Regions from separate parts of the Homo sapiens genome. Here all the other regions are reported to be linked to region 6. The links are microRNA targets in miRTarBase. Many come from high-throughput screens and were not tested one by one. Region 6 holds a microRNA gene; each other region holds the end of a gene's coding sequence.

What was found. The annotated mature microRNA hsa-miR-6720-5p reads UUCCAGCCCUGGUAGGCGCCGCG and lies in region 6 at 1,332-1,354, shown strand. An mRNA with a match to its seed (bases 2 to 7 or 8) in the 3' UTR can be bound and repressed. Matches are read on the target gene's strand: a 7mer-m8 pairs with bases 2 to 8, a 7mer-A1 pairs with bases 2 to 7 and ends in A, and an 8mer does both.
Region 1: the mRNA of MAGI3 is a reported target of hsa-miR-6720-5p. Seed matches in the 3' UTR shown: 7mer-m8 at 2,557-2,563.
Region 2: the mRNA of ANGPT4 is a reported target of hsa-miR-6720-5p. Seed matches in the 3' UTR shown: 7mer-m8 at 3,460-3,466 and 7mer-m8 at 1,018-1,024.
Region 3: miRTarBase lists TFPI as a target of hsa-miR-6720-5p. Seed matches in the 3' UTR shown: 7mer-m8 at 2,022-2,028.
Region 4: the mRNA of DFFB is a reported target of hsa-miR-6720-5p. Seed matches in the 3' UTR shown: 7mer-m8 at 652-658 and 7mer-m8 at 1,296-1,302.
Region 5: miRTarBase lists MRGPRF as a target of hsa-miR-6720-5p. The part of its 3' UTR that is shown has no 7-base or 8-base seed match.
Region 7: miRTarBase lists LAX1 as a target of hsa-miR-6720-5p. The part of its 3' UTR that is shown has no 7-base or 8-base seed match.

The regions. Positions count from the first base shown.
Region 1 is chr1:113,683,220-113,687,219 of GRCh38, reverse strand. MAGI3 (membrane associated guanylate kinase, WW and PDZ domain containing 3) reads right to left here. Exons shown (of 21, transcript NM_001142782.2): 21 at 1,297-4,000. The coding sequence ends at 3,206. Among named protein-coding and RNA genes, the nearest start is that of PHTF1, 74 kb to the left of the region's middle.
Region 2 is chr20:869,477-873,552 of GRCh38, forward strand. ANGPT4 (angiopoietin 4) reads right to left here. Exons shown (of 9, transcript NM_015985.4): 9 at 424-3,644. The coding sequence ends at 3,484. LOC124904854 (a long non-coding RNA gene) reads left to right here and starts at 1,476. Exons shown (of 3, transcript XR_007067485.1): 1 at 1,476-1,559; 2 at 3,421-4,076. RefSeq lists enhancers at 3,043-3,543, 3,544-4,044.
Region 3 is chr2:187,463,384-187,467,459 of GRCh38, reverse strand. It overlaps TFPI (tissue factor pathway inhibitor), which reads left to right. Exons shown (of 8, transcript NM_006287.6): 8 at 418-3,230. The coding sequence ends at 524. All of the region lies in intron 2 of CALCRL-AS1 (CALCRL and TFPI antisense RNA 1), which reads right to left. Among named protein-coding and RNA genes, the nearest start is that of CALCRL, 17 kb to the right of the region's middle. RefSeq lists a silencer at 2,372-2,572.
Region 4 is chr1:3,883,320-3,887,384 of GRCh38, forward strand. DFFB (DNA fragmentation factor subunit beta) reads left to right here. Exons shown (of 7, transcript NM_004402.4): 7 at 188-2,110. The coding sequence ends at 422. Among named protein-coding and RNA genes, the nearest start is that of C1orf174, 15 kb to the right of the region's middle.
Region 5 is chr11:69,001,777-69,005,852 of GRCh38, forward strand. It overlaps MRGPRF (MAS related GPR family member F), which reads right to left. Exons shown (of 3, transcript NM_145015.5): 3 at 2,622-4,076. The coding sequence ends at 3,502. Among named protein-coding and RNA genes, the nearest start is that of MRGPRF-AS1, 8.5 kb to the right of the region's middle. RefSeq lists enhancers at 634-1,134, 2,095-2,596.
Region 6 is chr6:1,387,637-1,391,712 of GRCh38, reverse strand. MIR6720 (microRNA 6720) reads left to right here and starts at 1,302; the gene lies at 1,302-1,399. FOXF2 (forkhead box F2) reads right to left here and starts at 2,137. Exons shown (of 2, transcript NM_001452.2): 1 at 595-2,137. The coding sequence starts at 1,765. It overlaps FOXF2-DT (FOXF2 divergent transcript), which reads left to right and starts at 2,252. Exons shown (of 3, transcript NR_187218.1): 1 at 2,252-2,694. RefSeq lists an enhancer at 90-955.
Region 7 is chr1:203,774,451-203,778,526 of GRCh38, forward strand. It overlaps LAX1 (lymphocyte transmembrane adaptor 1), which reads left to right. Exons shown (of 5, transcript NM_017773.4): 5 at 1-1,922. The coding sequence ends at 231. Among named protein-coding and RNA genes, the nearest start is that of LAX1, 11 kb to the left of the region's middle.

The DNA of each region.
Region 1 (4,000 bases), not on the chromosome of region 6:
GGTTTTACTTCTACATGATTACATTTATTTCTCTTTTAAATCTTGCTATTAAAAAGGGAAGTAACAAGGTATTCTCATGTAGAATAAAAAGCCAAGTGCCTTTCTGGATCCAAGACTTCTGAAATAAGAGTTGTTCCTGTTCAAAAGCTGCCTGGTCCAAGACTGATGTAACTAAAGACAATATCATAGGATCTTAGCCTTCTAATCTCACTAGGGAGACAATGTAATAATATCTCAAAGCTTTTCTCCCTGTTGTGACCAGTAAGAAAATATGTTCACTAAAACAACAAAACGATTTTACTGCCTGTTTGTTTCTGCAGCCTCTGCTATGGCACATCTTCACTGTGGGGTCTGGGAACTAACTAGAAGTTTGGGTATACTTTTTTTTTTTTTTTGAGATGGAGTCTCATCATCTGTCAGCCAGACTGGAGTGCAGTGGTGTGATGTCAGCTCACTGCAACCTCCGCCTCCCGGGTTCAAGCGATTCTCCTGTCTCAGCCTCCTGAGTAGCTGGGATTACAGGCACCTGCCGCCATGCCTGGCTAATTTTTGTATTTTTAGTAGAGACAGACAGGGTTTCACCATGTTGGCCAGGCTGGTCTCGAACTTCTGACCTCAAATGATCTGCCTGCATTGGCCTCCCAAAGTGTTGGGATTACAGGCATGAGCCACTGTGCCCGACCGTGGGTTTATTTTTAGTATGCGTTCTTGCAATGGTAAGTGGGAATTTATATTTCACCTTAAAAGAGTATAAAATTAACCGTGGTCTTGAAGTAGGTTTTAGGCACTTTTCATACCGAGTTAAGTCAAAACATTCTAAAAGTAAGTATAAAACTAAATAAATAAATGATCTTTAAAGATAATGTGAATCATTAGTCTGATGAAATGGGATTTTGTGACCTTGTAGTAACTGGACTGATATTACTATATCCATTATAAATGTCTAGTAGCTGAATTTCCAATGAGAAACTCCTCTTCTCTCCCCAACAGTGTTAAGAAAGGATTTTCAGTAGCAAATTATTTATCCAAAGCTATTTTCTTTACAATGAAAGATGAAAAATGGTTATAATGATATTCAACTCTAAAGAATTTCAAACTCTATTTATAAATAAATAAAAGTATACCTATAGAGGTAAAATCATTATTATAAGACTCTTCCTGATTTTAGGACTTTGAAAGTTTGTTACTTGGAGGGACAAAATCTATTTGAGGACTCAGACTATGATGGGACCTAGCTCCACCATTAGAAAGCAACATTAAACCAATGTGACAGTAAAAGAAATGCAGGCCATAAACTGTTTTTTTTAAATATCTATATAAAAAATAATGAGCAATTTACAGATCTTTCTCTAATCAGAACCTCAAGTGTATATATAAAGGTACTGTACAATATATAAACATTTACAACCAGTACATCCACATTTTGCTCAGCATTCCAAGGCCACATTGCTAAGTCAGTATATAATCAGTACAGAGTTTACTTAGGAAGAACCACATAGGACAACATATGACATCAAAGTTATGTCACAGTTAACAAAAATAGGATTCGTTATCACTAATTGTGGACTACAGGGAAAATAATAAATAATTTCTGTGGTACTAAATTCTTAGTATTTATCAAGCCTCCTAATTTTGCTCTATTTGAATAGTTACAATAGGTGGGTAAATATAGTTCTGGATGAAAAGGGGATTTCAAAAATCTCACTCTGGGAAGCATGTCTTATCTACAGGGGCTAATTGAGTTGTTGGGTTAAAGAGTTTCACAGTCAGACTCCCAGAGGGAAGGACCTGGACCTAATGTGCTTCACAACAAGATGAACCCAGGTGACAGAACAAGTGTGTTCACACACTCCATAAAATAGTTTTATTCTCAGAAGGTGCCTTTATTTATATAGATGCTACTGAATGCTGCTTCAGGGAACTGAAAAACCTGGATCTATTTTATGGAAGTTGTTAACAGTCTCCAACTTCTAAGAAACATCTTTAACTAGACTTTTAAAAAGAATTCTGAAAATGTGTACAAGTTAAGCAGATGTTTAGTCTCCCTTTCTTGTTTTTAAATAAGAAAGTTAGTTAATGTAGCTAAAAGTTAAATAAGATCCAGTAAGTACTGTCTACACATTTGTCCTCATTTGCTGGGCATACCCTACACAGGTTGTTTTTAAACACCCAAGCTTGTGCACCTGCTACCAGAAGAGTTGGTACTTGGACTGTGAAACTGGTTTCATGATTAAGTCCCTCACATAATCTATATAATATGTTTACTTTTCAAATATGTATTATGTATTAAAGACTAATGACTTTAGTAGTAGGTACAGCCAAAATATCCAGAAATAGTTGGTGGTTTTTCTTCAAAGAGCAATAAACACTATTTCCACATGCTTCTTTATGGTTTCATAATTAAATAACTGAAATAAAAAGGGTGACCTGAGATGCTGTAAGTATACATCGAGGTTGGATAACACAGCAGGAGATGAACTCTATTGCTTAAAGTACTTTCTTATTTCAAACATTCAATTGTAAGTAATATCTTTAACAGTTATTTGAAACAACTTATCCAGCCAAATTAAAATAAAAAGCCATAAGAAAGCATCAATATTGGACTACATTTTTTTTTTCCTTAAAGTAGTGATGTTTGGGGGTTTTATTTTTAAAGTGGGACATCATCAGTAGCTGTTAGAAGAGACAACGGCCATCTTTAACGATGAGTTAACAGTCTCTTCTTCTGCAAGGACTCACATATTTCTCTCTGTAAACATGCAACATGCTATTGAGATCATCAACTTCCAAGCCAAACCTAACTTTTTCATTACTGTGGAAACAGCTGAACAAAAAGGATAAAAACAGACATGATACAGTAGATAACTTGGCACAAATACAAAGTGAGTTGTGACCACATTGTTAATATCAACATATGTCATTTGTTCAGACACTCATGAAGACGAGCTGGGCAGCCTGAGCAGGGCGGGTCAGATGAGCATGTGGATGCAGCTCCTTCCTGAGAGCGAGGGAGGGCAGCCGGCCAGGGGGACAGTTGGTTCTTAGCAATCCTAAAGGCCCTTCATGCAGCCTAGGTAACTTGAGGCTCACATTAACATGTACTTATCTGTTTCAGAATATCTGAAAAAAAAAAAAAGGCTTTTTCTGGAAAAATGCTGCTGTAAGAAAAGATTACAACTTGTTTTTCTTTGTTTTATACTAAAGGTTACTGCCGTTTCTCAGCCATACCAATAGTGCCTGTGACTTTATTTCCACTTGGAACCTTCCAGGGCCCTGGAGTTATCAGTGTTTTCTTAACTGGAGAACTGCTTTCCGGTTTGAACCTTCCAGTCTCTTTGTTTTTGTCAGCTGCCTCTAGTTCTTTCCCTTTGTGATCTTCTGTTTTGTTTGAAACTACCTTCTCTTCAGGTTCTTGCTTCAGCCTCTTTTCTGATAGCTGGACATTTTCTCCTATTTTATCGTTACTAGAACTTGTTTCTCCTGTGGTTACTTTCTTTCCTTTTTCATTTTCAGATACTTCTTTACTTGTAGTCTTATTAGTCATTTTGGATGGAAGAGATTTCTCAACCATTCTTTTGATTTTTTTCTCTGGAGACCTTGTTCTGCTTTTTTCCAACTGATTCTGCTTTGCATCTTTCCTGATGACGTCTGATTTTTCCTTCCCATCTGGGATCTGCTCAGCATTACTGCCCGTATAGCCTGCTATTCTTCGACTCTTACCCTCTAATAATTTGGCCTCAGCATTTGATGGAGCTTTGCTTCCTTCAATTTTTTGCTGCTTTTTTGGGCTGGCCGACCGACCTCTGCTTTTTCTGCACTGATCTTGTCCAGAGCCTGCCCTGGTGCTGACCTGACAACTTTTATTTTCCCCTTTGCTGGGGCTGAGGGATTGATCTCTGGGTCTTCTTTTGGGGTTATTTTTTAGAGGACTAGGAATCTTATCCAAATGTTCCTCTGAATGTTGACTGGCTGGCTTTTTGGGACTAACCGATCTACCTCT
Region 2 (4,076 bases), not on the chromosome of region 6:
TTGTGAGTCAGCCTCACTGTCAGAAGGGCTTTCAGAGGTTGCTAGGTGCTCTGTCCATGGGAAACTGAGGTTCAGAGAGGGCCAGGGGCTCTGATCCAATGGCAGAGCCAGACTGATAACAGGGTCTAATATTCCTGGGCAGGACACAGCTGTGCCCTTGATAGTCAGAGGCAATCTGGGATGAACTGGATCCTGGGGTCAGGACCTGGGGACAGGGAGGCCGAGAGAGGGCACAGAGGTGGAGAGAAGAGAGATGAGAGCCAGGGACAGGGAACGAGGGAAGGCTGCCTAGCATCCCTGTTTCCTGAAGTCATGACTTGGGTGTCACTGACCCCACTGCTGGTGCCAGGCATGATCATGAGACCGAGGTCTGGTCAAGCAGAGTAAGAGTGATAAGCATAGGGATGGACACAAGACCAATCCTGGCTGCAGAAAATCATTCCTTTACTGGAATCATGGAGACGAGGGAGCTCCCCGGGTCAGGGATGCTGAGCTGGGAGGACATGAGCCTGGGGCTGCCAGAGCCTTCTTGTGAGGAAAGATCCTGGCTGAGAATGAAGTCAACGGGGCAGATGGAGGGGCTGAGAGGTGGAGCTGACATCATTTGAGCCTCTGGATCTAACCTCACTTGCCTTTACCCTTAGACTTTCCAGTTATGTGAGTCAATTTATTCCTTAGGGCTAGAATTTCTATCCCTTATACCTGAGTCCTGGCATGGAAGAGGAAGGAAGGTAAGAAAGAAGGATGAATATTTAAGAACAGGTGTCTGAGGCTGGGTATGGTGGCTCATGCCTGTAATCCCAGCACTTTGGGAGGCTGAGGCAGGTGGATCACATGAGGCCAGGAGTTTGAGACCAGCCTGGCCAACATGGTGAAAACCCGTTTCTACTAAAAATACAAAAGTTTTCCGGGCGTGGTGGTAGGCGTCTGTAATCCCATTACTCAGGAGGCTGAGGTAGGAGAATCACTTGAACCAGGAGGCAGAGATTGCAGTGATCTGAGATCATGCCACTGCACTCCAGCCTGGGTGACAGAGTGAGACTCTGTCTCAAAAAAATAAAATAAAATTACATAAAGAACAGGTGTCTGAGGATAACTCAAATCAGCTTCCTGCCCCCTTATAAAATGGGAGTAGAGAGGGACTTGGGCCTTCAACCCACCCAGAGGAGTTCTGTCCCTGGGCCTCACAGCTTTGCCCTGTCTCCTCTCTAGCTTGCAGTCAGCCTAGAAACTACAATAGAAAAATAAATGATGTGGATACAAAAATAAAATGCCTTTTCCTCACCTGAGTGCAGGAGAAGGGGCGGCATGTGCTGGGGAATGCCTTCCTCACCCCATTCTCCTCTTTGAGGACAAACATTTATTAGGCACCTGCTTCATGCCAGGCTCTATTAAGAAGATGACATACATGGTCTCATTTCCTCCTTGCCATAGCCCAGCCAGGAAGGAATATTATCATCTCCATTTTACAGATGGGAAAACTGAGGCTTTGATGATGTGAAGATAACTGGTGCCTTGAGAGGCTGAGCCACTGGACCAAAGTGTCAGAGCTGGAGCAGGTTTGTCCGACTCCAAAGCCCTGCCCACCACACCACACTGCACACAGTAGAGGCTAAATAAAGGTCTGCTGGGCAAATGCTGCTTAAGGCGATTTGAGCTCTCTGGGCAGCAATCTGCCCCTAAAGATTTCCCATCATGCCTGAAATGCCACCATTAGCAACCATGTCCTTTGAGTCTTGAAGGGGAAGAGTGCTAATTCCCAGGAATGAGATCAAAGTCAGTCTGTGCTGGGTTTACTCAGGGATCGGCTGAGAGTGGGACTCAGGGCTGGGGCGAGCCAGGGGGATGAAGGGGTCCCATTCCCATTGGCTCAGTCTCATCCAGGAGAAAACCTTCTGAGGACAGAGGTGTATCCTGGCGGTAGGGCAGGTGGGCTCCTGGCTATGCCTGGGTGTTGGCTGATGACAACAGGGCAGACAGCATGACACAGTGATGGGGGCAGGTGACAGAGTAGCTGTGGATCCTTTCTGACTCCATCCTCTGAAAGAAGCTATGAGGGCCCTGGTCTCCCAAACTCAGGCAGAGGCCTTATCTCCTCCCCTGCAGCTCCCCACCTACCACCACAGAGGCAGCATCACTGCTGGATGGGGAAGGGAGGGAGGCTAGGGGTTAGGGCTTGGAGGCAGAGAGGATCTGGACTTGGAGACAGATGTCCTGCCTAACAGTCCCTGTAATTGAGCCTGGGGGAGTTGAGGTTACAGGGAGTCCTAAGGGAAGCCACCCAGGTAGAGATCAGCTTCCTGGGACTTGAAGGAGCCTTGGAGGACATGAGCCTATAACACAGACAGGGACCTAGTTCTAGACCCTTCTTCAGGGATGGTATCTGTTTTAACTGAAAGGTTATTTCCAGTTGTTTTTAGAGGTTGTTTGAGGCTGTCACTGTGGCCCTTGTAGCCAAAAAGGGTGAGTATAGCTGGGGTGGGGATGGGGTCGTAGGGCTCCTCCTTATGCCAGGGGAGCACTAGCTTTGTCCAAGAGCATCTACAGTCCTGTGAGATGCTCTGGGACAAACCGAGCCCATTTTCAAATAAGTAAATTTGGAGAAAGCTGCCCACTCTAGCCCCTTCATGGGTAGTCACAAGGCACTTGGCCATATTAAAGGCTCTGATCAGTCCTGCAGTGAAGAGTGCCTGTTCACTTTGACTTAACCTGCTGTTTCCTTTTCTCATTGCTCATAGGTACTTTTAGAGACAAGCCATAGTTATTCCCTGTGACACATCCTCTAGGACATGCTGGAGGTGAAGGAGCATGTCCTTTTGGGTCTCCTAAAGACCCTGAGCTCCAAACATTGGAGCCTAGAAGTGGTGAAGTGGTAAAGCCTAGAAGTGGTGAAGTCTAAAGACCCTGAGATCTAGGGTCATTAGAACCTAGAAGTGGTGAAGTGTGAAGGGGAAATAATGATTAACCCACCCACTAAGGGGTGGATGCAGCCCCTTCAGACTTGAAAAGAAAGTTCAAGGACATCTCAAGACTAGAAAATCTTGGAACAGGAGCTTAGAATGGGAGATGGCCTTCTTGCCAATCCAAGGGAGAGAACCTGGGCCATCTGGGCAGCTTCCGATGTGCAAATACATTCCCACCTGCCTGCAACCCCACCATTGGTCATGGGAATCAAGTTTGGTCTGTTCTCAGCCCATTCAAGGTACTGTGACCCTCAGGCAGGGAGCCCCTGAAGGGGGAGGGAGAGAAGAGGGGCGAGGACTACATCAGAGGGATGGGCCCCGAACACCCTCCATGTCACAGACGGAGGGGAGTTGGGGGGCAGATGACCCTTCTGGACTTCTGGGTCAAGGAGGGCTGGCTCAGGAAGCCCAGGGTGTCAGGGAAGGCGGTGGCACAGTGTCTTGCATCTGGGTCCAGGTTGTCCAGGAGTGCCAAGTCCGAGCTTCTCCTGTGTGGTCCAGCCTCTGGCACAGCTGCTCGTTAGATGTCCAAAGGCCGTATCATCATGCGAGAGGCACGCAGTGAGTAGCTGGGGCCCTTGAAGTAGTGCCAGCGGATGCCGTCCATCTTGTACTTGTTGTCGGGAGCGTGGTAGTAGACGCCGTTGAGGTTTGACAGGCCACAGGCGTCAAACCACCACCCTGGTGGAAGAGGGAGGACAGGCGCTTGGTGGAGGTGGGAGCCCAGCCAGTGGCAAGAGGGCAGCCCCTGTGTCCCAAAGAGAACAAAGACTAATCGGGGCTGTTGCCTCCTCTGGGAAGCCAGCTGGCTGGGGATGGGGCTGGGTGGGAGTGGGGGTGGGGTGGACAACAGACCCTCTGCTCAGCCGGGGCCTCTAGAGGGCAGCAAGGGGCTCTGGCCACTCCTCGAGCCCCCTTGCTCCTCCCGGCCTTCTCCCTGAGCCCTTGGCGTCCCTGTCTTCCTCCCTCACTGAACCTGTCTTTCCAGCTCCCCAACCTCCCCTCATCGCTCTGCTCACTGCTTTCTAGTGGTCTCTGTCACTCTCTCTGAGTCTCTCACTCTCCAGGTTCATCTCTTTCTCTCTTATGGTCTCTGTGCGTGGGTCTGTCTCT
Region 3 (4,076 bases), not on the chromosome of region 6:
TCTTGTAATGCACAAAATTTTAACATATTTATTAATGTCTTCTGAATATAAAAGTAATGCATGTTTATAAAAGACTAAGAAGAGTATAAAAATGCAAATAAAAACTATCTGTAACTTAATCAACCACATACAACCACATTTCTACTATTTAAAAATAAAGCAAGCATGGATTTGTAACAGAAGAGGAACTAATAATAAAAATGAACGGCATGCTTATCCATTTTTATTAACTCATATATGCAAAGTAACGTCCTTAAAAATAAATTGTTCTACACGAATACATGGACAAATTAAAGGCTTTTAAATCAATAACATCTTTTGGATTTAAATATTAAAAGTTACTTTGAGAAGATTTTAGATAAAACATTTCATTGTGTTATTTTATCACACATTAATTTATTCCTCTTCCTCTTATAGGTTTCATCCAAAGAATATCAAAAGGAGGCCTAATTAAAACCAAAAGAAAAAGAAAGAAGCAGAGAGTGAAAATAGCATATGAAGAAATTTTTGTTAAAAATATGTGAATTTGTTATAGCAATGTAACATTAATTCTACTAAATATTTTATATGAAATGTTTCACTATGATTTTCTATTTTTCTTCTAAAATGCTTTTAATTAATATGTTCATTAAATTTTCTATGCTTATTGTACTTGTTATCAACACGTTTGTATCAGAGTTGCTTTTCTAATCTTGTTAAATTGCTTATTCTAGGTCTGTAATTTATTAACTGGCTACTGGGAAATTACTTATTTTCTGGATCTATCTGTATTTTCATTTAACTACAAATTATCATACTACCGGCTACATCAAATCAGTCCTTTGATTCCATTTGGTGACCATCTGTTTGAGAATATGATCATGTAAATGATTATCTCCTTTATAGCCTGTAACCAGATTAAGGAATACAGCTCTTAAAAAATCAAGAACTTCCTGAGTTTCACATATAAAATGGTGACAAACACCTGCTTCTGATAAAGTTTATCCAATTTTGTATTTATAGTATTCTATTGTAATAATAGAATTCTATTATGTGCTTCCCTCCTTAGACATAGTTTTTCTCCTTTTGTACTAACCAGTACTTCCATCTATATTGAGCTAAACTGTCTTTGAACAGTCAACTCTGCATCATGTGCCTGCCTGATTTGGATTGGTTTCACTTTTTTTTTTGTTTGACCATAGCCCATTCTATCAGTCAAGATGACTGAATAATTGTGTGTTAAATACAACTCATGATAAGGAGAACCTTTATGGAAACAAGAAGTTTTATGGCAATCGAGAGGGAATTATTTATATGTACTTCTTAATACTATGCTTCCCAATATTTTTTCTTACTAAAAATAACAAAAATATTTAAACCTTCTGAAATCTATTCAGTTATCATTAGGATTTGCACACAATGCAACTAATAATTCATGCTTTAAAAAGTAGGTTATTTCTGTTGAAGAGAAAATTATCAGCAGGGAAGAGTCTACTAGAAAATTCATGTGCTAGTCATTCTTGGGGATTTAATATTTTGCTGGAGTTAATTCACTATATCCAGACCTGTATCTTTCATTTATTGCTGAGCCATGTGCAGTCTGGCATCTCAACAACCTCAACAACCTCAACAACCTCCAAGACATGTCAGTTTCTGTAGTGTTCACCTCAAATCTGACACTGGAATTGGAACTGATTTAGAAACAACCATTTCATTCATTTGGTATGACTAGCTTCATGACTAGCTTCATGAATAGCTTCATGAATAGCTTCATGACTTCTCGCTAACAATGATAGTATAATTCTGCCTGTTCTTCAGGATTGAAATTTTGAACTCAATTTAGATTTCCTGTTTTCCCTCATATACCACATCTAAACAGTCTCCAAATCTTTATGCTTTTTTTTTTTTTTTTCGAAAAAGTTCACCCAATCCCTAGGCTTTTTACTTTTTTCTTTTTCTTTTCTTTTTTCTTGTTTTTTTTTTTTTTTCATTTTGTTTTGTTTTGTTATGTTTTTTTAGACAGGGTCCCACTCTGTCACCCAGGCTGGAGTGCAGTGGTGCAATCACAGGACACTGAAACCTCCCACCTAGCTGGGACTAGAGGTGCAGGCCACCACACCAGCTAATTTATGTAATTTTTGTAGAGACGAGTTTCACCACGTTACCTAGGCTTGTCTTGAACACCTGGGCTCAAGCAATCTTCCAGCCCCAGCCTCCCAAAGTGCTGGGATTACAGGTATAAACCACAATGCCCCCGTTTTTACTCTTTACTGCATCCTTCCCATCAGTATTAATTCCTCAGAAATTTAGTACATTCCTCCACCATTTCAAAATGCTCCCAGAACTCACACTAGTTGGTACTTAACTACAACCTTCAACCTCACCATTTAATTTTGATGTATGTTTTTGGATTTACCAACAGTACTTTCTTTCATGACTACTTTGATTTAGTTAAGAATGCTCACTGTACACTGAATGTTAATTACTCAGCTAATTCACACTGATTTCCTGTTTAAAAATATGATCCCCTCCAGGCCATTCATGTGAAGTCAGGGTACAGCTGATGCCAGCTACAGAATCACTATGTTTCAATATGGAATATGAAAAGTCCTAACACATAATTGCAAATCATTTTCTACTATGGTATACAAATTTTATCATTACAAAATAGTATCAGCTTTTTTCACTTAAGGAAAATAATACATCTTCATTCAAATATTCAGTGCATAAATAATTGCCTTAAATTGAGTCTTTGCTGTGGAATTTGAGAGTTTTGGAAATCAAAGGCCCTTGTGAAACATTTCCTGTTGCCATTTATTTATAGATAGCAATAGCTTCAAATGAGTGGGAAAGTCTACTTAGGTGAAGTGGTAAATAGTCACTAAGATTGTATAAATAGCGCATTGATGAGTTGCCTAATTGTTTTCTCCAACAATAACCACTGGTCCATTGGTTCACTACTTACTCAAGAAAGACATATACTGAGATGGCTTGAAATGTTTAATGCATGTGAACGTTATTTTTACCGTGTTTTGGAAAAAGATCTTGATGTTATTGTCTTCCTTTATTTTCCACAATTAAGTGCATCTAACTGTGAATTGTATATGGAATTACATTATTCAGCATATACATATATTTACCTGCTTTGTTCATTCTCTGTATTCAAAATTAACAGATCATGCTGAAAACCACTCAAACGATTATATTTTTTACATTATAAGAAGTAAAATATATTATTCTGAATAATGAAACCTGGCTGTTGTACTCGTAAAGATTTTAGTACATAAAGAATTCAATGCTCATTAGTTATCATAACGGTACAAAATCTTAAGACCAAAAATGATTGTTCCCACACTCTGGTTTTATTTCCTTAAATTGGAATTGTTAATAGCTGCCTTTTAATTGCAAGTACACACCCATATATTATAATTTATTTGTCAAACAAATTAGTACACTATGTCCTAACAATCTATACATTTAAAATTTACTCTGCTACATATATATTTTCATCACTCATTTCATATACAATTGTATGAATATAGACATGTATATTTAAATATATGTTATATAACTATACATTACATAACTTCCTATCCTGGCTATTGTATTTGGCCTAGCCCATCTCTATATCAGAAGAAAAAAAATCATGACACTAAACTAGCTAACTAGGCTGTTGGTTGATTCTGTCATCAGCGGCTCCTGCTCTTACCTGGTTTTTAGCAAATTAGCAATTTTATTTAGTGTTTCCAACTTTTGACTTTAAGTGCTTTCTCAGGGACTTTGGCTGGGATGTACTTTAATCACTTTCCCCACATTTTGCTAGGTAGAACAGAAAACCTTGCTTTTGTTGGTCCTGCAGGTCCAGTTTCTGAACTACTTACAACCACATAGCTAGTTTCTTGGTTAGAATTACTCAGAGTACTTATAAATATAAGAAATATTTAGATAGTAGGTGCATGGTAATTTATTGTACCAGGAAAAGGGAGACAGAGAGAGACTTTAACCTTATAATAAATAAAATGGAGCATTAGGACAATGAATATGATTTCCTCATCAATTCAGCCACAGATTGTAAAATTTCTAGCCCAATCAGTTTG
Region 4 (4,065 bases), not on the chromosome of region 6:
AAAAGTAAGAGGAGCCAGGCTGCTTGCATCAGGCTCTGCTCAACAAACCTGGCCAGTAGGTGCGGCCGTGTGTCCGTGATAGCACTTAGGGGAATTTGTGAAGAGCTGTGACTGCAATACACTGCTATGACCTGTTGCCTGTGGCACTGTGACCACAGAAAATGATGTCTCTAACCTTACTTTGCAGAATAGAAAAGAAACGCACCATCATTCCTACACTGGTGGAAGCAATTAAGGAACAAGATGGAAGAGAAGTGGACTGGGAGTATTTTTATGGCCTGCTTTTTACCTCAGAGAACCTAAAACTAGTGCACATTGTCTGCCATAAGAAAACCACCCACAAGCTCAACTGTGACCCAAGCAGAATCTACAAACCCCAGACAAGGTTGAAGCGGAAGCAGCCTGTGCGGAAACGCCAGTGACACGTACACACCACGTCCTGGTCTTTGTTTGAGGCCTGACGTGGGCATCATTTTAACAGGTGCCTTTTTTGTTTTTTTGTTTTTCGTTTTTTTGGTCACTCCAGTAGCTCCTGGAAAAAACCTTAAAAAATGTTTCCTCCAAATCTGATTTCATTACATTTCTGAATTGTTGGGGTTTTTTTTGTTGTTTTGTTTTGTTTTGTAGATGGAGTTTCACTTTTGTTGCCCAGGCTGGAGTGTAGTGGCGCGATCTCGGCTCAGCCTCCCGAGTAGCTGGGATTACAGGCATGTGCCACCACGCCCGGCTAATGTTTGTATTTTTAGTAGAGACGGGGTTTCACCATGTTGGTCAGGCTGGTCTCAAACTCCTGACCTCAGGTGATCCGCCCACCTCAGCCTCCCAAAGTGCTGGGATGACAGGTGTGAGCCACTGCGCCCAGCCTGAATCATTTCTTATACCTTCTGACAGCCCAACTTCCAGAGGACAGCTCTGGGGTACTCGTTGGATGTCTGTGAGTACCTGGTCATACGGGTCAGTAGGGATAAGAATTGTCTCTGGGCTGAGGAATTCTTCTGTTCTCTGGTTTCACCAGCGTTGGGTTTGCTCATGTAATGTGGTCACCATACTCAAATGGTGTCATGGCTGAAGTTGGCCACCTTGCTTGAGGGACAAGTTGTTTATGTATCAGCTCTCTGCTGGGTCTCCCTTTCCATGGCAAATGGGCAGCTCCATCCTCTTGACTCTTCTAAATGCCCAAAAGAGGTGTCATGCTTTGGGGGTACGATGTTTATACTCCGTAAAGAACATACAAGGACATTCACTGCTGATTTTTTTTTTTGTTTGTTTGAGACAGGGTCTCACTCTGTCGCTCAGGCTGGAGTGCAGTGATGCAATCTTGGCTCACTGCAACCTCCGCCTCTCAGGTTCAAGTGGTTCTCCTTCCTCAGCCTCCCAAGTAGCTGGGATTACAGGCACCTACCACCAGGGCCAGCTAATTTTTGTATGTTTAGTAGAAACGGGGTTTCACCATGTTGGCCAGGCTGTTCTCGAACTCCTGACCTCAGGTGATCTGCCCGCCTCGGTCTCCCAAAGTGCTGGGATTACAGGCATGAGCCACTGCACCTGACCTGCTGAATTGTTTATAATGGCAAGAAATAGGAAACCCCCCAATGTCTGTTGAACAGCTATCACGTTGAACCACGTGAAACTGCTGTTTTCTAGGCCAAAAATGGTGAGCGATCATTTATTTCATGATTCAACCTGATACATTTACATAGTGCAAAACTGTGTCACAGTTTCAGGCTTTTATGAGGAAAGCGTTTCTGTGTAGAAACTGGAAGCTGTTCAGGGCATCGGCAGCTGAACCCTGCTCCGTTGGTCAGCGTTACTATCATCTCGGATCATATGGAGCTCATGTCAGCCGTGTGGGTGGCGGGTGCACAGAGACGGTCTGGAAGGAAACACGCGGATCTGAACAGCAGTAATCCTGGGGGATACGGGGGTTGGGCTAGATTACAGAGGGCTCATTTTCTACGTCATGTATTTTATGATACTTGAATTTTTTGAAATGGGCATTTATTTTATAACATGTTAAAATGTACTTTTTAAATTAAGTCATTTTGTAATATTTGAATTTTTACATTTGTTGTACAATCAGGAAAAGCAATAAAGATTTTTCAAAAATAGACATGTCAAGAAAGTTTGCACTCATTGAGGATGCTGAAAATAAGGATAAAAATAAGGAGTCTGTGATATTTTACAAATTGACTTCATTTACAAATTGAGTCATTTTACAAATTGACTTCAATTTTACAAATTGACTACATTTTCTTCACAGAGCTAAAGCAATACCTTAGAATTAACCCAGTCCTGTGTGGGGAATTTCTAGAAGTCCCATCTATGGTACGGTGATGTTTATCTGCTCTGATCAGGGAAGGACAAACAGTGGGAGAGTCAGGGCCTGGGAACCGGGGGGCCTGGTCCCTCTTCTCAGATCCCTCTTGCAGGGTCTGAAGAACTCTCTGGAGCCAGCAGATCCCACCTGTGCAGCAAGGAGCCTGGCCCGGACAGCTGTGAGGCCCTTCCAGCTCCATCGCTCCAGCCTCAGGAGACGAGCTGCTCTGTTTAACAGCCACAGACGTGGGCCTTTTTCAGAGACACATTCTTTTGTTGTCTGTCTGTTTTTTAAGACAGGGTCTTGTTCTGTCATCCAGGCTGGAGTGCAGTGGTGTGATCTCAGCTCACCGCAGCCTTGAACTCCTGGGTTTAAGTGATTCTCCTGCCTCAGCCTCTGCAGTAACTGAGACCCCGGGCATGTGCCACCATGCCTAGCTAATTTATTTTTATGTTTGTAGAGATGGTCTCACTATGTTGTCCAGGTTGGTCTCAAACTCCTGGGCTCAGGCGATCCACCCACCCTGGCCTCCTGAAGTGCTGGGATTACAGGCGTGAGCCCCTGCACCCGGCGCAAGACACATTCTTGAGGGAAGTCCTTCCTTCTCAGCGGTCCAGGCATGCTGTGCCACCTTGCCCTGGACACACAGGGCGGCTATCCCTCTACCACGTGGCTCCACGGTGCTGCCCCACTGCCTACGACTAGGCCTAGAAGGTTTTGTGTCCCTCAGGCTTTCTGCGCCATCCTGCTGCCGTTGGGCCTTGTCCGTGCCCCTCCTCACCCTTCCTGACTTGAGGCTTCATTTCTGCAGGAGTTGAGACACCGGAAACCCAGGCTTGTTGAGCTGTGTGTGAAGCGTGCAAGGCTCTCCTGGCTGTGACATGGTGTTTTGGTTGTTTTTTTCTTGCTTCCGGGCCCTTGGCTGGGCAAGGTGCTGGTGATTGTTACAAAGAGCTATCACCTATCAGGAGTTATGTCACCCAGAGTCTCAGGTTAGAAAAGGTGGCTGAACCTCTGCAACAAAGAAAGAGTGTGTGGTCTGTGCATTCTCACACAAGAGGGAGAAAAGTTCTAGGAGCTAAGAGTGTGGAATTCTGTGATCTGTGGGGCTGAGGGTCACCTGCTGGGAGGTCCTGGCATCAGTAAGAAGCTTCCAAGGGAAGAGCCCAGTAAAGGCCTGCAGACGGCCTCAACCAGCTCAGTGCCAGGCTCCATCCAGACGGCAAAGCTGCAGCAAACACGACCACAAGACATGGCCCTCCTGCAGCTCAGGAGGAAGCGCTGTAGGCAGAGCCACAGTCGGCCTGCGCCAGGGGGTGTGCGTGAGCACAAATACACTCTTTTGTATCTTATCTTTTATTCCCTCATTCGCCCCCCTTTGGTCAGTCCCCCTAGGTCTGTGCAGGCTACAGTCCACATGTAGACTAGGAAGTGTTTCTACCTGGCAGTGCTTGTTAGTGCAGGTTAACCACTGTGAGTGAATAGGGGTGGCCCCAGGAACACACACACTTTCCACTCTGCGTGCTGCGTCTCCTCTGCAGGTGTATCATCATTTGGGACAGTGCACCTCACTGAAGTCTGCTTAGAGGATGGCAAAATTCTCGTCACCACCAGGATAGGTGCTGTCATTTAAAAAAAAAATTTTTTTTTAATTTTTTGAGACGGAGTCTCGCTCTGTCACCCAGGCTGGAGTGCAGTGGCGTGATCTTGGCTCACTACAAGCTCCGCCTCCTGGGTTCACGCCATTC
Region 5 (4,076 bases), not on the chromosome of region 6:
ACTTCCACAGCTGGGGCTGACAGTATGGGCCATGTAGCCCTGCATGGACAGTCAACAGAAAACCTACGTGCAGCTCTTGGCCAGCACCCACTGCCCATAGTATGTCCGCAAACAGCAGATTGGTGCTGGGGACAAACCACTCACAGGCACATCCCTTCTGCAGTGGCCATTCTGCTCCCTGCCCTGAACGCCCGACCAGGGCAATCAGGCACACCGGCTGCCACCCCAGGCCACTGCACCAACTCCTGGAGGTCGGTGCTGTAGCTGACTTATCCAAGGAAAGTGAGGCACAGCAAGACTGAGGTCCCATGGCTTATAGGTGGCAGCCCTCTGCCTCCCTGAGGCTTGCTCTTGACTTTCCAAATTTGGCCTTGCTTATCCCTTGCATAATCTAAAAGAGCAGCTTATTTTTATAGAAATAGTGGGTGGCAGACAGCACGGAAAAGTGGAGAGTTCTGCCCTGCCTGATGCCCCACCCCTGCCCCTTCACCCCACCCTTCCCACATACCACATGGTTGTTACTAAGTCGGCTTTGTAACAACCAGGGCAGCCCAGATGCTCTGGTCCCATGCCCCACTCTCCATTCTGTGACCTGCTGTGGATCCTTTTCCCAGAGCTGTGGGATGGAAATCTCCCCCGCAGCCCTCAGCTCCTCCCAAGCCCACTTTAATAATTAAATACCAAAGGAAGGAGGAGGAAAGTGGAGGAGAGCGGGCAGTTCCCGCTCATCTCATCATCTGTGCAGTCTCCCTCCATTAGCACAGAGAGCGAGGTGGTCCAGGGAGGTGTGGGAATCCTGGGGCTTTGCGGGGGGATGGAGGGGAAGAAAGCTTGTTCCCTAGCAAGACTGCAAACACCTGCACCTGAGAAGGGCCACGGGTTGGGGGAGGCCTAGTTCCTGGGGTTCACCTCTGCCCCTCCCGCCTTAGGATCCATCAGGGCAGATGCCTCCTCCTAGAGTCGGACCCAGCCTATTCCTGACCTCCAGGCCCTGCTACTGCGTGAGGCTGTCCACCCCCTCACCGGCCCTGGCTCTGAGCTGTTGCAGCAGCATCCAGGCAGGGAGGCCCCTTCCTTCTAGGTCAGCAGCTCCCCACGAGGACTCAGGGCTGGAGTCCTGGGGTGGGGACTCCTAAGGAAGAGATGAATTCCCAGGAACTGGGATGCTCTGGGCCCTGAGGAGGAGCCAGGACCCCAGATGGACCCCCCACCCAGCTGCCTTCAGGAGAGGGACGTGCTTCTGCCCACTTGTGTAGCTAGGATGCCCGTGCTGGTGGGAGCTTTCGCCACTGGACGAGGTCCTAGCCCTGCCTCCTGGTGTGTCTGCTCAAGGCCCCACCTGGCTTCTCTGAGTCGCTGGAAATGACCTGTTGGACATGGTGGTCTCCAGCTCTGCTCTTCTGGGATCCTCTGACCAGCGCTGGGGAGGGTGGGACTTGGAGGATGGCAGAGCTCGTTCTGGGCACTGGGAGGGAGCGGGTGGGGACATGCAACCTTCATCACCTAGAGGTCCTGGAACTACGACATCTGGGCCACATGAGATCCCCTCTTTTCCTAGAGCGGTGGTCTTGCTGAGAGGACCTGACCAGGATTGTTAGAAAGGGGAGCATGGAGGAGCAGTGGGCTGAGGAGCAGGGGCAGGAGGGCAGTGGAGGTCAGGTTGGCCGGGCAGTGGATCATCAGGGACACAGAACTGGGGGGTCAGCCCACTGAGGGCTGGACCACTTCACCAGGGGCAGGCTGAGCAGGCTCCAGGGCCTGCAGTTAGAAGGCCACGTTCCAGGTGGCTGGGTGCGTGAACCTGGTGGTACTGCCCACGCCTCTACTCATTCCCACCTGGAGCTCGGAGTGCTGCCCGCCTGCCTGCTCCTGGCTCTGCTCTGCAGACGAGGGGCCCAACTCTGTCAGCCACGTTTCCTGACTGGGGGCACCAACACCTCTGCCATGATCTCTCTCCATGGGACCATGGGGTGAGCAGGCTTGCCTTAAGGCTTGTCTCAAAGGAGCCAGGGTCCTAGGTTGCACACCAGGAACCCAGGATGGGGCCCTTCTGGGGGCTGACCAGAGGCAAAAGGGCCAGGCAGGAACCCTTCTAGCGTGGCGCTGGCTGGGCTGTCATCTTGGGAGGGCTCCCAGCCTATCGCTGGGTTGTAGAGAGATGTCTGGGCACTGGGAGGCTGGCTCAGGGATCTCAAGACAGAGAGGGGCATCCTGAACGGGGGCAACAGGAGGAGAGGCAGCAATCCACTCCACGGAGCCTCCGGTGGACACAGGCAGGACCATGGTGGCCGGCCCAGAGCCTGGCATGGAGGAGGTGAGAGCTGTGGCTCCCAGAGGCCGTGGGGGCCTCCGAGCTGAGAAGGGGCACTGGGATACGCCGGCACAGGACAGCCTGGCTGACCACGGCTCCCTCTGGCAGGGAGTGGACAAGCCACAGGAGCGGGAACACGGGTGTGTGCAGACCCAGCCCCAGGAGGAGGCCTGAGAGCAGAGGCAAAGAGCAAAGTGTGCGGGAGAGCTGGCGGGGGGTGCCACCCGTCCCGGGACTCTGTGCCCTTGGGCGTCCTCACTGTCGGAAACAGAGACCCAGGGTAGGACTGTGGGCATGAAGCCTTCCTGGCTGCAAGTTATAAAATGTTTATTGATATACATTTTGTCTTTTATAAAACTTCCGTTGGCCACATTGGGCCACTGTGCACCACAGTGCCAGTCCCCAGGTGGCCAGGGCGGAGCCAGTGTCCACTTTCGGGTGGGGGCTGGAGCCAAGAGGCTGTCCAGGAGCTGCCCAGTGGGTCCTCATGGCCTGCGGGATACCTCAAGTGCTCCCGGAGGCAGCCTAGGACTGGCTCGTCCCGGAGTCAGAAAAGGCAGGTCAACTACCCAAGGCGGCCAAAGGCCCTTCCTGTCTCCAGAGCCTTGACATAACCAGAAATCCCCCCATCAAAGTCACCAAATGACTCGACGGGGGGAAGGGAGGTTGTTTGCAGAAAGACTTAGCTACAAGGCATGTGAACCAGAACTTTCTTCCAGACACCATTTCCTTCACATTTGCTCACTGATAATGCCTTAAGAGGATCGAATCTCTGGAACAGCCCTGAATGGCAGGGATGAGGCTGCTGGCCTGGTGCTGGCTGGGACACAGTCAAGGAGGGCTGACCCAAGAGGCAGAGGTGGCTAGGCTGGGTGTTGACCTCCTCTCTTTTACCAACCAGCCTAGGGCAAGGAGGGGCCCCACCACCTGGGGGCAACTTCTGTACAAGAGGTCTCTAGGGGAGCAGAATGGGTGGGGGAGCCGGGCAGGGGCCACAGGGTCTGTTTGCTGGTGGCTGCCCAGTCTCCCAGCCACCCCTGGAGTCCCCAGCCCAGGGAGAAGGAGGCCCGAGGAGAGGAAACAGATCTTTCTTCTCCTGTATGGACTCAGAAGCAGGTGCCCATTCCTGTCCCAAGGCGAAGGGTCTTGGAGGCCGCTTCCTGCCCCTGCCTCCTCCAGGCGCTGGAGTCTCAGGAGGCGTTCCCCGGGGGACACTGCATCTCCATGGTGACTGTGTTGGGCGTGCTGCCCCCGGCCTCCCCCAGCTCAGCGCCGTCCCGCAGGGCCCGCTGGAAGACCACCCTGAGCGGCTCCCACAGCCGCTGCGACTTGTCCCTCCCGGCCAGGAAGTAGACGATGGGCTTGGCGCTGCTGTTGATGCAGATGCACAGGTCAGTGACGTACTCGGGGAAGGGGGCCGGGATCTGGAAGACCCAGAAGAGGAACCAGTCGATCCCTAAGTAGATGGAGGACACCAGGAAGACGGAGACCATGGCCAGGATGACGTGGTTGAGCTTGGCAGAGCGCTGGCGCCGTCGGGCCCGGCACTCCACGTGCAGGATGAGGGCCAGGCAGGGCAGCACCATGAGCGGGCAGCAGAGCAGGAACAGGAGGATGCCCAGGAAGATGTCCATGTGCCTGCAGGCCGCGCCGGGGGCCCCGCGGCCCAGGAACACGCAGAAGTAGTTGTGCAGGCAGGTGACCAGGAGGGACAGGACCCACAGCAGGGCGCACACCACGGCCGACAGGCGCTTGGGCCGCCGGC
Region 6 (4,076 bases):
CAACAGTTTGGTGACCCCCTCCACTGGCAAATGTCCCTTTAGTGAAAGATCCTGGGATCCAGCTCTGTCCCTCCCACCCCCTCCTCTTAACACTTGCCCAGCTGCAAACATCTCGCTGCAGACACCCCAACATACAGAACATATCTGATTCTGACATTTACTTCGGGACAGAAGTACAGCAAAATGAACGCAAGGAAAAAAAGGGACAAAAGGAACTAGACACAGCTTCCTGACCAAGTTCCCCAAAGGCCAGATGCCTTCTCTCCAAGCTAAGTGAGACTCTGAACGGGAGACCTGCAGTCTCCTGCACAGGGATCCCCAAAGAGCCCAGGAAGGCAGGGGACTTTACACCACGCTCACAGCAGCCAGACAATTCTGAAGCTTCGGCTGCTGGCCAGGGATACTGGGAGGACAGTAAGACCCTGATCCCTGCTCCCACGAATAAGATGCCGGCTTTCCCCAGCATCTGCTTTTCCCAGTGCCCTCAGACCTCCTAGCTTCGGGGTCCCTGTTTGTGGGAGTGGCAGTGGCCGCCAGCCCTGGAGGCCTAGAAGCGGTGCGCCCAGCTGGCTGGGCTGGAGCGTGCTGCGTTACCTGAGAGGTCCTCGCGAGCGTTCTGGTGCAAGTAGCTCTGCTCCAGCGAGTAGGAGGACATGCTGGAGTGCAGGCCTGCCGAGGCGGCGGGGTTGCTGCTGGGCGTCAGGGCAGGCGGCTGCTTGAGGTAAGGCGAGGCGCCAGGCGAGCTCCAGTGCGCCGCAGGGCTCGTGTAGGGCGAGTGGCATTCGATGGCGCTCGCCATGGCCGGGGACGAGGGTACCGGGCTGCTGCTGCTGTCCGGCCCGTAGTCGCCGCCGCCGCCGCCCCCGGCCGCACCGACGCCCCCGGGTCCCGCGGGCACCGGGCAGCTGGCCATGTAGGTGGAACCCGGGTTGGGCGACATGTGCGGGACGTGGTGGTGGTGGTGGTGGTGAGGGTGCGCGTGGCTGGGGGCGCCCGCGCCGGCGTCGTAGCCCGCGGGCATCATGTCGAGGCCGCCGTAGCCGCCCTGGCTGTGGCAGCCGAGCGGCGCCGACGGGGGCGCCTGGAAGTCGAAGCCCTGGGGCAGCAGCGACGCCCCGAAGCCCAAGCCGCTCACCACGCGGTGGTACATGGGCTTGAGCGCCTGGCACTTCCGCCTGAAGCCGCGCGGCCGGCGGCGGAACGAGCCCTCCTCGAACATGAACTCGCTGGCCGGGTCGATGGTCCAGTAGTGGCCCTTGCCGGGCCGCCCGAGGCCCTTAGGCAGCTTGATGAAGCACTCGTTGAGCGAGAGATTGTGGCGCACCGAGTTCTTCCAGCCCTGGTAGGCGCCGCGGAAGAAGGGGAAGCGCGCCTGCAGGAACTGGTAGATCTCGCTGAGCGTCAGGCGCTTGCTGGGCGAGCTCTGGATGGCCATGACGATGAGCGCGATGTACGAGTAGGGCGGCTTCTCGGGCCGCCGCAGCCCCGAGCTCGCCTTCTTGGCGCCCCCGCTCCCGGCGCCCGCGCCGCCGCCGCCCGCGCTCTTGCAGGCAGCCGAGGGGGCGCTGGCCGAATTGGAGGAGGACGAGGACGAGGCGCAGGAGGCGGAGGACGACGACGAGGAGGAGGAGGTGGTCTCCGGGGCGGCGGCGGCGGCGGCGGCGGCGGCGGGCGGCGGGCTCATCAGGGCGGCCTGGAGCGCGCCGGGGACCGGGCTGCACGCGCGGCGGAGCGGGGCCGGCGGCGGCCCGCCCTCGGTGGTCATCTGGGACCCGGGAGCGAGGCCGGGCCGCGAGGGCGGGCCCCGGGCGGGAAGCGGAGGCGCCGGAGCGGGGTCGGCCCAGAAGCCCTGCGAGCGCCCTAGCCCGCCGCCCGGGCTGCAGCCGTGGCCACTCCGGGCCAGCGCTTCGGCGTCGCCTCCCTCAGCTCCTCTGGGGCTTCTGGCGGCGGCGGCGGCGGCGGGCGGGAGGCAACGCCCGGCGCATCCCTCCCCGAGCCGCGGGCCCTGCCTTGCGCAACGGCCTCCCAGGCCGCGGGGCCGAGCGGCCGGCGCCGGGCGACTGCGCCCGCGAGTGGGACCGCGGCCTGGACCCCGGGGACGAGCCCGACGTCTCCCTTCAGGAGCGCTCCTCGCTCTGTCTCTCGGACTTCCTCCCTCCCTCGCCCTCCCCGGCCGCCCTCCTCGCTCCCTCCCTCCCTCCCTCCCCCCCCACCCCGCCCTGCCCCCTCCTCGCTCCGCGCCGCCGCGCTCACTCCTCCCCCTCCCGACCTGGCGGCCGCCTCCCTCTCTTATCTCGCTCCCCGCTCTCCAGGGTCTCCTCGCTCTTCATTCCTCTCGCGGCCTCCTCCCCTTTCCCTCACTCACCCTCTTTCCAATTGAGGGATCACAGACTCACTCCGGTTCTGCCAGGGGGACGACCCCCACCCCTCGCAAAACTCGACCACCTCTGACTTCATGAAATATTCTTTCTGTTTGCCCCCCGCAGCAAGCCCCGCGTCCCATCCCAGGACCCAGCCCCGCCCCTCCGCGCCCCCTTCCTCCTCCTGGCCCGCCGGGCCGAGTGGTGCTGCTGCGGGTGCGGCTGCTCGGAGCCTCCCTGGCCGCCCTCCCCAGGGCCGATACTGACTCCATCTGTCAACTTCGTTTAGACTTTGCCGCCCTCAGCCACACGCCGGGGTGCCAGACGCCCAAAGGTAACGTGCCAATCCTCTCTCTTTCTGGCAGGGCCTGCAGGCTCCCCGACAATTGTTAGGGCGACTGGGGGCCGCCGCAGGGTTGCGGGCCGCTGGCGATCGTGGACGTTTTCGGAACTTTGAGCAGAGGGATTTACACTGAGAAACCTAGGCCAAGTTTCAAAGACTCTGGAAACCTGGATCTCATGGGACTTAGGGTTGCATTTGCTTCCACTTCTTCCCCCCACCCCCGCACCCCAGTTAGTGTTCTGTAAGAAAAAAGTGCAAAAGAAAAAGGAAGGAAGGAAGAAAAGAAAGAAAGAGAAAGAAAAAGAAAGACCCTGAGATAAGCGAGATGGCTATATTTATAGTCAGTCCTGAAGGGGTGTGCAGCTGTCACTAGGTTTACATCCTCCGTCTTAACATTGCCCACCCAAAACTGTGCCAGGTCTCAGCTAACTCCTGTCCGAGAACACTTCTCCCCAGTTGTGGCTAATTCCTCCCTAAGTAAGAGTCAGGCTCTGAGAGAGATGTGCCCTCGGGAGCAATCACTTCCAATGAGACCCGACAGTTAGTTATTGGATTACACGTGCAGGGAAATGTAGTCCGACCAGGGATAGGAGCTGGGAGAGGGAGGAGGAGAGCAGGAGGCCGGAGCTGGCGGGGCCTCCCAAGGGCTGAAGGGGGAGGCCCAGAAAGAAGGTGCTGCAGACCAGCGGACCAAACAGGAGGTAGAGCTGGGCACCCCGCTGCGTCTAGGCTGAAAGGACCGAGGTGCACGGGTGTGCCTGCTGGGGAGCCTGGGGAGTTGCAGGAGGCAGGAGAAAGGGAGGTTGTGCAGTAATCAGGAGGAAGACACCAGGCAAAGAGCCTTCACAGCCGCACAGCCTAGGCAGGCCCCCTGGGGCGGCAGGAGCCCTGTGTGCCCCTGGAGTGCCGGGGGACTGCTCCTGGCTGAGTGTGCTGGTGGGGCTGTAGATGCAGAGAGGGCGGGTGGGGAGGGGAGGGGTATGTGGGAGGGGGGTGGGCCGGGGCTGGCCCCAGACAGTGACCTGAGGTTGAGTGGAAGCAGGCTTTTTCCATCAAACCCTGCCTGGATACCACACACAGAGACCGAGTGTCAGTTTACTGCCCTGAGCCGGCTCCTTCTCCCTAAGCTCCACAGTAATTAGACAAAGAAAACCTAAATTAGCTGAACAGGCGTCGACAGCTTCCTCCAGAGCACCCCTGGTACCTACATGGGAATGTGTCCGAAAATGGCTTGATTGTAGCCGAGAGTCAGCTAAGAAAACACCGCCAAACCGAACTCAGTTTACCACTCATTTCCAATAGAAAAAAGAAACAAGTCGCTCTTTTCCGGGTGGGATGTTTTGATTGGGTTGGGGTAGGGCTTCGCAGTTGTT
Region 7 (4,076 bases), not on the chromosome of region 6:
GACAAGACAGATGATCCCGGGACCCATGTCCAATGTGTCAAAAGGACATTCCTTGCTTCAGGGGATTATGCAGACTTTCAGCCATTCACACAGAGTGAGGACAGTCAGATGAAACATAGAGAAGAGATGTCAAATGAGGACTCCAGTGACTATGAAAATGTGCTAACTGCCAAGTTAGGAGGCAGGGACTCTGAGCAGGGGCCTGGCACTCAGCTCCTTCCTGATGAATGAAGACCCAGGTACCCAGCCATAAAGCCACATTGAGTAGTCTATCCCATAGGATTGACTACTGCAGAGTCTAGTGCAGACCCGTGATCACCTTAGTGCTTCAGTGGATTCACTGGTTAGATTAAAAAGAGGCTGAGATGAGCAGTGAACTAAGAGGCCACACAAAAGCAGAGGTTTGGGAATTCCAGAAGGGAATTCTTCTCAAGCAGAGTGTGGTTATCTCCTGTACCAGCCTAAGAATGTTTGCTGAAACTGCTTCCTAGAACTGTGAAGAAAGCAGGAAAGTAGTGCACAGTAGTCTAAGATTATTACCTTCATTAATACCAACAGGCTGCAAAGCAAGAGTATAGATTATTGTATAATCCAGTCAGAGGTCAAAAGGAAGGAAGAAGTTGGAGTGGAGTGGGGTGGGCAATTTCCATTTTAAAGAGTGTAGGCAGGCCAGGTGCAGTGGCTCATGCCTGTAATCCCAGCATTTTGGTAGGCCGAGGAGGGCAGATCACTTGGTGCCAGGAGTTCTAGACCAGCCTGGCCAACATGACCCATCTTTACTAAAAATACAAAAATTAGCCAGGCGTGGTGGTGTGCCCCTGTAATCCCAGCTACTCAGGAGGCTGAAGCAGGAGAATCGCTTGAACCCGGGAGGTGGAGGTTGCAGCAAGCCGAGATTGTGCCACTGTACTCCAGCCTGGTGACAGAGCGAGACTCCCTCTCAAAAAAAAAAACAAACAAAAAAGAAGTGTGGGCAACCAAATGTAGGTAAGGATGAAGAAGAACAGGAACTCTCACTGGTGGCTGATGGGATTGCAAAGCGTCAGGGCAGCTTTGAAAAACTTTTCAGCAGTTTCTTATAAGCATAACTTATCATATGGCCCAGCCATTTCACTACTAGAAATTGACGCAAGTGAACTGAAAACTTATGTTCACACAAAAACTCGCACATGACTGTTTATAGCAGCTTCATTCATAATTACCAAAAACTAGAAATAACCCAGATATCCTTCAACAGGTGATTGGATAAGCTGTTGATATCCATTCCTTGAGTTTATCCATACTCAACAGTAAAAAATGAACTCTTGGTTCACACAATAATATAGACATATCTTAAATCCATTTTGCTAAGTGAAAGAAGCTAGGCCTAAAAGTCTACATGTTGGGCGATTCTATTTATATGACATTCTGGAAAAGGCAAAACTATAGGGATGAAGAACAGATCAGTTGTTGTCAGGTTTGAGAAAAGGAGGGAAGTTTGCTACAAAGGGGCTGCAAAGGGAATAGGCTGATGGAGCTGTTCTGTATGGTACTGTGTGGTGGATACATGACAATATCCATTTGCAAACACAAGAACTATACACATGGCCAGGCGCGGTGGCTCACACCCGTAATCCCAGCACTTTGCGGGGCCGAGGCAGGGGAACACAAGGTCAGGAGATCAAGACTGTCCTGGACAACATGGTGAAACCCTGTCTCTACTGTCTCTAACATTTGTAAACCTGTCTCTAATTTGTAATTTGTAAACCCTGTCTCTCATATTTGTAAAACTACAAAAATTAGCTTGGCATGGTGGTGTGCGCCTGTAGTCCCAGCTACTAGGAGGCTGAGGCAGGAGAATCACTTGAACCAGGAAGGCGGACTGCATTCCAGCCTGGGCAACAGAGAAAGACTCTGTCTCAAAAAAAAAAAAAAAAAAAAAAAACTGTACACTAGACAAAGGGGCTTTTATTGTATGCAAATTTTTTAAAAATGAACAGACTGTCAAGGGAACCCAGGATGGTATGCAAATTGTGGCAAATGAATCTAATTGTATTATAAATGTATGATATCAACTCACTGAAAGGGATGGGGAAAAAAGAACTGACAAAGTTGGAAAACAATGTTTTGACTTATAACTGTAGATAAGGACACAAAGAACTGTATACAAAAACTGCACTCTGGTTGGTAAATTTGTATCTCACAGAGGCATGGCTTAGCAATTCTAAAACGACTTTATATGTATATTTGGGTTAAATAAGTCAATCTATTGTAGATAAGGAGAGACAGGTTAGTGTAAGAATTGAATTGCAGGGCACCCAACTGGTGTCCAGAAAGCTGGAAAATTGGTCAGCTGTTGGGGGGAGAAAATCCACACATCTGGTGTCAGAAGTGTCGTGAGTGAAAACAGACCATCACTCCACCAAGTGGCCAGCATTTAAATTCATGCCACACAGAGGGAACCATGACAGTCTGGTACTGATGACCATGCAGGGTTAGCCAGGGCAGCAGCAAGCGCATCGAAAGGACAATCCCATAGTCAAGTAAGGAGAAGTTTGTATCATATGTGAGAATGAAGCTTAAATGGACTGAACAAAATCTTAAACATTGGCATGACAGAATTCTCATAACTAAGAGGGGATGAAAAGTTATGAGATCTAAATTAGAAGTTATGAAGACATCTGTCACCCAGTAAGGGTGGGAGGGACAACGTATCAGTTGGGGGCAGGTCCTGGAATAAACTAAGCCAGCTCTTTTTTATTTTTTGAGATGGAGCTTTGGTCTTGTCACCCAGGCTGGAGTGCAATGGCATGATCTTGGCTCACTGCAACCTCCACCTCCCAAGTTCAAGCAATTCTCCTGCCTTCGCCTCCCAAGTAGCTGAGATTACAGGCGCCTGCTACCATGGTAATTTTGTATTTTTAGTAGAGATGGGGTTTCACCATGTTGGTTAGGCTGGTCTCGAACTTCTGACCTCAGGTGATCCACCTGCTGTGGCCTCCCAAAGTGCTGGAATTACAGGCGTGAGCCACCACACTGGGCCTTAAGGCAGCTCTTGCTTGTTTACACACCAACAAGCTGGATACCTCAATCAGCCAGTCACACTTACATACTCTCCCAAATCAAGAATGATTAATGCACTGTAGATTGTCTCATATTTAGATACGTAACTTTTCTGTTTATTTCTTGTTTTAAGAAATTTTTGCAAATGAATCAATGAAAAATTTTTTATTGAATGTTAATTTTTTTCTTTCCATTTATGGTTTTGTTTTCTCACATTAGTTGCCAGGAAATGTTGACTAATTGTCTTATCTCATACACTCGATGATGCTAAATATGAGGAAATTTTTTCAAGATTAGGATAGGATGAAAAAGTAGATATAAAGATAACCAAGGCCAGGTACAGTGGCTCACGCCTATAATCCCAGCTCTGTGGGAGGCCACGGCAGGCAGATGACTTCAGCCCAGGGGTTCAAGACCAGCCTGGGCAACATGGTAAAACCCATCTCTACAAAAAATACAAAAATTAGCTAGACATGGTGGTGCCTGCCTGTAGTTCCAGCTACTCGGGAGGCTGAGGTGGGAGGATCACTTGAGCCCAAGAGGTTGAGGCTGCAGTGAGCCATATTCTTGCCTCTGCATTCCAGCCTGGGTGATAGCAAGACTCTGCCTCAAACAAACAAAGATAACTAACCCATTTTGATTCCTTAATTAGTTAAATAAAATGAATTAATTACCCAAACCTACATTATATTGATTGTGTCTTCATTCAGGATACTGTTTAGTACAAAATACAGAGGTTTGCTAAGTTCCCTCCTTCCCTCTAGAAGCACCCACCCTCTAATGGTGAATGGAAGATGAGGTCTTGCTGTCCCTCTGGCATCTGTTCTCCTTCAGCACCCCCTTACTATGACAGGCTTTATCGTCAATTCTGGGTTTCCTGTGGGCTGAGGGCCTATACTGACTTGCAAATATTTCCAGAAACTCTCAGTCAATAAGCCGGTGTCCTGCTCCCCTGAAGTTAGAGAGAAATGGAAGTAAACAGGCCTCCCTTTCCTCTTACCAATCGTTTCCTTCAGCATTCCCAGCTCCAGACT